Regions from separate parts of the Homo sapiens genome. Here region 1 is linked to region 2. Evidence: fine-mapped expression QTL. A gene starts in region 2. The other region holds a variant in brackets. All regions are shown on one strand. Distances are between the middles of the regions. Region 1 overlaps ZNRF1 (zinc and ring finger 1). Region 2 holds the start of WDR59 (WD repeat domain 59).

Region 1 (4,395 bases), 57 kb after region 2:
TTTTTTTTTTTTTTTTTTGAGTCTTACTCTGTCACTCAGGCTACAGTACAGTGGCATGGTCATAGCTCACCGCAGCCTTGACCTTCTAGGCTCAAGGGATCCTCCTTCCTCAGCCTTCCACGTAGCTGGCACTGCAGGCGCGCACCACCACGCATGGCTTAAAATCCAATTTTATAACACTTCCATCTCTCAAAAAGTCCTTTTTTTATTTTTATTGTTTTAAAACAAGGGCGTCACTCTGCCACCTAGGCTGGAGTACAGTAGTGAGACTGTAGCTCACTGCAGCCTCAAACTCTTGGGCTCAAGCAATCCTCTCACTTTGTCCTCCCAAAGTGCTGGGATTACGGATGTGAACCACCACATCTGAAAGGGCCACTTCAGAAAGTTCCTATGCCTGTTTTTAGTCAATCTCTGCTCCCCACCGGGCAACTGCTATCTCTCTAGATTTGCCTTTTCTGGGAATTTCATATAAATGAAATCATACAGTATGTATTATTTTCTGTTTGGTGTCCTTCACTCACCATGTTTTTGTTTTTGTTTTTTGTGGGTTTTTTTTTTTTTTTTTTTTTTTTTGAGACAGAGTTTTGCTCTTGTTGCCCAGGCTGGAGTGCAGTGGCGCAATCTCGGCTCACTGCAACCTCTGCCTCCTGGGTCCAAGTGATTCTCCTGGCTTAGCCTCCTGAGTAGCTGGGATTATGGGTGCGCGCCACCATGCCCAGCTAATTTTTTGTATTTTTAGTAGAGATGGGGTTTCATCACGTTGGCCAGGCTGGTCTCGAACTCCTGACCTCAGGTGATCCACCCACCTTGGCCTTCCAAAGTGCAGGGATTACAGGCATAAGCCACCATGCCCAGCCCACTTACCATGTTTTTAAGTTCATATGTGTTGAGTATGTATCAGTAGTTTGTGCTGACATCGGTAGTTTTTATTGCTAAATAGTATTCCATTATATGAATTTACCACAGTCAGTCTATCCATTCACCAGCTGATAGACTTTTGGATTGTTTCTAGCTTAAGACAATTATGAATGATGCTGCTGTGAACATTCATGTTCGTGATTTTATGTGGACATAAGATTCCATATGAGAAGTTTGTGTTTAAACGTTTGAGAAACTGGCAGCCTTTTCCAAAGTGGCTGTACATTTTACATTTTCATGGGCAATGGTTGAGAGTTCCAGTTTTGCCACATCCTTGCCAACACCGTGTATTGTTGACTTACGGATTATAGTCATTCTAGTAGGTATGTAGTGGTACCACATTGTGATTTTAATTTATTTTATTTATTTATTTATTTTTGAGACAGGGTCTCACCCTGTCGCCCAGGCTAGAGTGCAACGGCATGATCTCAGCTCACTGCAGCCTCTGCCTCCTGGGTTCAAGTGATTCTCCCACTTCAGCCTCCAGAGTAGCTGGGACTACGTGTGCATGCCGCCATATCCGGCTAATTTTTGTATTTTTTGTTACAGATGGGGTTTCACCATGTTGGCCAGGCTGGTCTCCAACTCTTGACCCAAGTGATACGCCCGCCTCAGCCTCTCAAAGGTCTGGGATTACAGGCGTGAGCCACCGTGCCCAGTCCTCACTGTGATTTTAATTTGTATTTCGTTAGCTAGTGATGATCCCTTTTCATGTGTTTAACAATTCACTTATCTTTTTTGG[T/C]GAAATGTCAATTCAAATCTTTGCTTGCTTGTTGTTTTCTGTTTTTAAGACTTAATTCTCTCAGGAGTTCGAGACCAGCCTGGCCAACATGGTGAAACCCCATCTCTACTAAAAAAAAAAATATATATATATAAAATTAGCTGGGCATGGTGGCAGACGCCTATAATCCCAGCTACTCGGGAGCCTGAGGCAGGAGAATCACTTGAACCTGGGAGACGGAGGTCGCAGTGAGCTGAGATCATGCCACTGCAGTCCAGCCTGGGCAACAAGAGCAAAACTCCGTCTCAAAAAACAAAGACTTAATTATTTTAATAGAGCAGTTTTAGGTTCACAGCAAAATTAAGAGGAAGGTCCAATGATTTTCTGTATATCCTCATTTTTAAAAATTGAGTTGTTTGTCAGTGAGTTGTAAGAGTTTATGTATTATGAATATGTCTTTTGTCAGATATGATTTGCAACTATTTTCTCCCAATGTGTGGCCTGTGCTTTTATTTGCTTATATGGTATCTTTGGAAGAGCAAACATTTTTAATTTTGGTTGTCTAATTTATCAATTTTTTGCTTTTATGAATGATGCTTTTGGTATATGTAAAAAAAAGTGTCTAGACCAAGGTTACAAAAATTTCTCCTATTTTCATCTAGAAGTTTTATAGTTTTAGCTCTTACATATGTCTGTGTTCCATTTTGAGTTAATTTTTGGATATGGTATGAGGGAGGGAGTGTCTGTTTCTTTCTTTTTTTTTTTTTTTTTTTGTAAACACACATATTTCTAGTTGTAGCAACATCATTTGTTGAAAAGACCATCCTTTCTTCCTGAATTCCCTTGGCAGAATCAACTGGTCATAAATGTAGTGGTTTATTTCTCGGCTTTCAATTCTGTTCCATTGATTTATGTGTCTGTTGCTATTGTGGTTACTTGTAACTTTATGATAAGTTTTGAAATTGGGTAGTGTACAGTCTCCATTTTTGTTCCTCTTTTTCAAAATAATGTTGGGTTTTGACTATCCTAGGTCCTTTGCATTTCCATGTACGTTTTAGGATCAGCCTGTTGATTTCTGCAGAATGGTTTTTGAATCCTGATATTTTTTCATTCAGAGGTCCTTGTGACCTCTCACAGAGGGCCTGAAATGGGCTCACTGCTCTTTAGAGGTTATAATAAGCGAAGGCCTGCTGTACACCAATGCTTGATGTATTAGCGTTCTTCCAGGTTTGGCATGTTGGGTTTAACAGCTAGTGGGAACGCAGGCCAAGGCCAGCTCCGGGACGGTAAAGATGACCCTTGAGTGCTTCCCTTGGTGTTATACTTGGTGTCATCCCACCTCCTTGTCTCACTGGTAGTTGGCACTCCAAAAATACTTGAATAGAAGTGGGAGACTGTCTACAATAAAGAACAAGTTGAGACTGATGCATTTATCATCTCTCCTCTTTTTGAGCCTCCTTTGTTTTAAAGCCGTATTTATACCAATGAGTTTCTAAGCAGCCTGGCCAAGTCTGGTTCCCTCAGCCCTGAGCTGTGGCCAGCTTCATGGTTGATTGCATTTATCAGATTTTTTTCACCTGTTCTTGCCTAAGCCTGTAACACATTATCACTGAAACCAGACATGGTTTTATCTTTTCAGAAGCTTGTGAGAGGAAACTGGTGCTTCCCTTCCTCAGTTTTACTTTAAGGAACATTTTTTCTCTTTCTTGTAAAATTTGGCTGTTCTTCTTTTACATTTTAGACATGTGTTTGTTTTGAACAGGCTGCCTTCCAAAACTGTACAGTTCTTATCTTCCTTCTACCTCACCAGGCCTTTTTGTGCTGGATTCACTCAAACCCAGCTAATACTTACAGAACATTTAACTATAATATATGCAAGGAATCATTTTCAGTCCTGATAGATACACAGAAATGGATAAGACATGGTTCTTGCCCTCATAGAGCTCACAATCTGATAAACTCTGATAAAAGAGACAGTATATGGCATATATACACAGGTATATATAGCATGTAAGAGACATGGGGGATCCTGGGTTGGGTGGAGTACTGGTTTTCCACGAAACCTGTTGCATATCAGGAGCCAGCCATTCTTGCTTTGTACTTTTTTTTTTTTTTTTGAGACAGAGTTTTGTTCTTGTTGCCCAGGCTGGAGGGTAATGATGCGATCTCTGCTCACTGCAACCTCCACTTCCCTGGTTCAAGCCATTCTCCTGCCTTGGCCTCCTAGGTAGCTGGGATTACAGGCATGCACCACCATACCCGGCTAATTTTGTATTTGTAGTACTGGCTAATTTTGTGTTTGTAGTAGAGACGTGGTTTCACCATGTTGGCCAGGCTGGTCTTGAACTGCTGACCTCAGGTGATCCACCCGCCTCAGCCTCCCAAAGTGCTGGGAATACAGGTGTGAGCCACCATGCCCAGCTGCTTTGTACTTTTAAAATGTGATCTTGACTTTCAGAATTTAAACTTTGGAATTTCTTAGAGTGGTTTAGATGTCACCTTCCCTAGGTGTAGGACAGATAGAGCTCTGACTTTCTTTAAAATTTATTTTATTTTTTGAGACGGAGTCTCTCTCTGTTGCCCAGGCTAGAATTGCACAGCTTACTGCAACCTCTGCCTCCTGGGTTCAAGTGATCCTCCCACTTCAGCCTCCCAAATAGCTAGGACTATAGGCATACAGGCATGCGCCACCATGCCCAGCTAATTTTTGTATTTTTAGTAGAGACTGGCTTTTGCCATGTTGGCCAGGCTGGTCT
Region 2 (4,395 bases):
ATAGTGTATACCTGAAGGGAGCTCAGTAAATCCTTGTTGAATAAATGAGTGAATAAAAGTGTGGCACACAGAAGGTATTTGATAAATATTAGTTGAATAAATGAAAAGAATGGCCAGGCACAGTCGCTCACACCTGTAATCCCAATATTTTGGGAGGCCAAAGTGGGAGAATCGCCTGAGGCCAGGGGTTCAAGACCAGCCTGGGCAACACAAAGAGACTCTGTCTCTACAAAAAATAATAGGCCAGGTGTAGTGGCTCACACCTGTAATCCCAGCACTTTAGGAGGCCAAGGCAGATGGATCACTTGAGGCCAGGAGTTCAAGACCAGCCTGGCCAACAGAGCGAAACCCCGTCTCTACAAAAAATACAAAACTTAGCCAGGCATGGTGGCACGTGCCTGTAATCCCAGCTACTCGGGAGGCTGAGGCACAAGAATCGTTTGAACCTGGGAGGCAGAGGTTGCAGTGAACCAAGATCATGCCACTACACTACAGTCTGGGTCATAGAGTGAGACTCTGTCTCAAAAAAAAAGGTAAATAAATTTAAAATTGAAGAGAATCACCAAGACACTGTCCTAGGTGCTGGGGAAGAGGGGATGTATATGACCGGTTCAGAGCTACCCACTATGAGTAAAGTAGTCCAATGAGCTAAACAAGGGCTCTGGGGTAGGATCCAGCATCCAAATCCCAATGCTGTGTGTGCCACACATCCTCAACATACAACCACATAAAATCTTCACTCGAGGCTGTGCTCAGTGAATCACACCTGTAATCCCAACACTTTGGGACGCTGAGGCAGGGGGTTCGCTTGAGCCCAGGAGTTCCATACCAGCCTGGACAACATAGGGAGACCCCGTCTCTACAAAAAAAAATGAAAAATTTAGTCGGGCGTGTTGGCATGCGCCTGTAGTCTCAGCTACTGGGGAGGCTGAGGTGGGAGGATAGCTTGAGCCCAGGAGGTCGAAGCTGAACTGAGCGGTGATTCACGCCTCTGCACTCAAGCCTGGGTGACAGAGCCAGACCCTGTCTCAAATGAAGTAAAATAGGCCAGGCACGGTGGCCCACGCCTGTAATCCCAGCACTTTGGGAGGCTGAGGTGGGTGGATCACCTGAGGTCAGGAGTTCAAGACCAGCCTGACCAACAAGGTGAAACCCCGTCTCTACTAAAAATACAAAAATTAGCCGGGCGTGGTGGTGCGCACCTGTAATCCCAGCTACTTGGGAGGCTGAGGCAGGAGAATTGCTTGAATCCCGGAGGCGGAGGTTGCAGTGAGCCAAGATGGCACCACTGCACTCCAGCCTGGGCAACAGAGTGACTCTCCATCTCAAAAAAAATAAATTAAATTAAATTAAATAGAAAATTAAAAAATAAAATCTTTAAGCCAATCTTGTAAGTACGACCATCTCCCTTCTACAGGTGAGAAAACTGACGTGTACGGAGTGATGACAGGGTAGGGGCTGCGGGATTCGAACTCGGGCAACACGTGCAGTGTCACTCCTATCCACTACACGGTATTTTCCAGTATGATGGCATTAAGAACCACTTAACCGCGTAGACGCTGCAACAGGCACTTTGCAAACAGTGTTTCATCGAATTCACCCCAACAGGGTTACGTCCACGCAGCTGAGACTTAGAAAAGTCCCGCGACTTGCCTTAAGTCGCCACACGCGGCTAGGGCCTCGGGAAGCCGTCACGCCCTCGCTCCGTACCCTGATTGTGGGAAGCCTCCCCTCAGCACTCACGATGCGCAGTCTCTGCCTCAGTGTCACAAGGCGGACCCCACTCCCCTACCCGCGTAGGGAGCCCCGAAACTCCGTCCATGCTCGCCCCGATTGCCCCCGATGGTCGTCTTCCCTCCCCCGACGGGGCCTAAGAGGTCGGCTAAGCCCCGCCCACCTCCTCAGTACGGGGCCTAGGGTCTCCCCGTAGCCCCCCGGGACGGAAGCAGCCGCGTGGGGGAGGGGAAGCGGGGAGGACGCATGCCCAGAGGGCTCCACTCGGCCTCTAGCTCACCTGGGAGTCACGGAACTCTACAACCACGTTTTCGCTGCTCCATCGCGCCGCCATCTCCCCCGCCCGGCCGCCGCGGCCCCAGGACGGCGCCCTCCCACCCCGCCGTCCCCAGTATCCCGGGACCGTGCGCCCCACACAGCCAGAGAATCAGCCCCGACACGCCCCGTGCCCTGGTTGCTCCTGAGCTCAAGCCATTGGTTGACCCAAGCATAGGCTCCGCCCCTTCTTCCTGGGTCCTCCAATTGCTACACCGCGCCTGCAACAAACAGGCACGCCCTCGCTCACTTCCGTCACTTGGTTTGAGTCACCCACGCTCCTCGCGATTGCGGGCACACCCCCTGCCGCGAGCTCTGCCGGGAGTTGTAGTCCAAGCTCGAGCAAGCGTGGGTGACCTGGGAAGGGCTCGCAGGTTTGGGTTTGGGTGAGGTGAGGTGCCTGTTGTCCTGACTAGCTCCTCGCTGGAGTCCCCAGCATTCGTCCAGACCCAGTCTCAAATCAAAATCAACGTTCGGGGCGGGTGCGGTGACTCACGCCTGTAATCCTAGCGCTTTGGGAGGCCGAAGTCAGGAGTTCGAGACCAGCCTAAACAACATAGTGAAACCCCGTCTCTACTAAAAATACAAAAATTAGCCGGGTGGCGGGCGCCTGTAATCCCAGCTACTTGGGAGGCTGGGGCAGGAGAATCGCTTGAACCCGGGAGGCGGAGATTGCAGTGAGCCGAGATCACGCCATTATACTCCAGCCTGGGTGACAAGAGCGAGACTCCGTCTCGGAAAAAAAAAGAAAAAAGAAAAATCAAAGCTCGTGCAAACCGAAGATACCTCTTCTCCTGATGCCTATCCCATCGAGATATTTAAAAGTCTGAATGTGCAATTTATTGTTTCATACAATACAGCAGCGCCTCCCGTAACAATGAAGGTAGACTTAAATGTGAGAATCCAGCTGTTTTCTTGATCTGTAGTCCAATGCTCTACCTGTGAGCTATACCCCCTCCTGCAATCCAGCTGCTTTCTTTCCTTTTCTTTTTTTTTTTTTTTTTTTTTTTTTGAGACAGAGTCTTGCTCAGTCGCCCAGGCTGGAGTGCAGTGGCGCGATCTCGGCTCACTGCAAGATCCGCCTCCTGGCTTCACGCCATTCTCTTGACTCAGCCTCCGGAGTAGCTGGGACTACAGGCGCCCGCCACTACGCCCGGCTAATTTTTTTGTATTTTTAGTAGAGACGGGGTTTCACCGTTTTAGCCAGGATGGTCTCGATCTTCTGACCTCGTGATCTGCCCGTCTCGGCCTCCCAAAGTGCTGGGATTACAGGCGTGAGCCACCGCGCCCGGCCGCTGTTTTCTGATAAACCAAACATTAAAACAGATTTGCCAGAATTTTTTGTTGTTTTTTTTTTTTTTTGAAAATATTGTTCTTTTTCATTTTAAAATGTATTCATGTGAAGGGCCTTAATGTTTAAATGAAATAATGAATATATTTTTTAAATTCTGTATACTACATATAAAAGTTTTTGGGGGCCGGACGCAGTGGCTCATGCCTGTAATCCCAGCACTTTGGGAGGCTGACGTGGACGGATGGCTTGAGCCCAGAAGGAGGCTGCAGTAAGCTAGGATCACATTACTGTACTCCAGCCTGGGCGACAGAGCAAGACCTTGTCAAAAAAAAAAAAAAAGTTTTTTTGGGATTTTCAGTAATTTTTAACAGCAGTGTAAAGGGATTCCAAGATCAAAAAGTTTGAGAACCACTGTACTAACATGGTGGGTGGTGATTAAGTTTCCTTTTCAGTCCCACACTCTTAAATGTTGATTTAACTGGTTTAGCTTCAGTTTCCCTATAGAAGGGAAAAATGGCTTACCTCATTGGATTGTTGTAAGGAACTAAGCACAGGGCCTGGGATGTAGAAAAGCTCAACTATAAACTATTAATTCAGTTCTAGAAGCCAGGAAATCAATAAAAATAAAATAAAATAAACTGTTATTGTTGTTGTTAATATTATCACTATTTGTATGTGCAAGTCATTGTATGAATAGAGGTAAGAAAGTGTGGTCTCTTCCCTCCTGGAGTATTGGCTATAAGGGGGAAGACAGACTTGTTGACAGATTACGGTGACTAACTTGTTGCCTGGACCGTTTCATGTTTTATTTTTATTTTTTTGGAGAAAGGGTCTCGTTCTGTCACTGAGGCTGGAGTGCAGTGGTGTGAGCATAGCTCACCACAGCCTCCAACTCCTGGGCCCAAGCAATCCTCCTGCCTCAGCCTCCCAAGTAACTGGGACTACAGGCATGTGCTACTATGCCCAGCTATTTTTTTTTTTTTTTTTTTTTACTTTTTGTAGAGATGGTCTCGTTGTGTTGCCCAGGGTGGTTTCAAAGTAGTGGCTTCAAG

The links. PIP is the estimated chance that this variant, and not a neighbour inherited with it, causes the effect. A credible set is the group of variants that fine-mapping cannot tell apart.
Region 1: its variant is the best candidate, but not a certain one, in a credible set for the expression of WDR59 in whole blood (TOPMed, PIP 0.80).

Annotation. Positions count from the first base shown.
Region 1 is chr16:75,040,051-75,044,445 of GRCh38, forward strand. The region is part of intron 1 of ZNRF1 (zinc and ring finger 1); the gene reads left to right. Among named protein-coding and RNA genes, the nearest start is that of ZNRF1, 43 kb to the left of the region's middle. The variant T/C (reference allele first, on the strand shown) is at 1,661.
Region 2 is chr16:74,982,950-74,987,344 of GRCh38, forward strand. It overlaps WDR59 (WD repeat domain 59), which reads right to left and starts at 2,174. Exons shown (of 26, transcript NM_030581.4): 1 at 2,015-2,174. The coding sequence starts at 2,068. RefSeq lists silencers at 1,920-2,229, 3,265-3,465 and an enhancer at 2,560-2,619.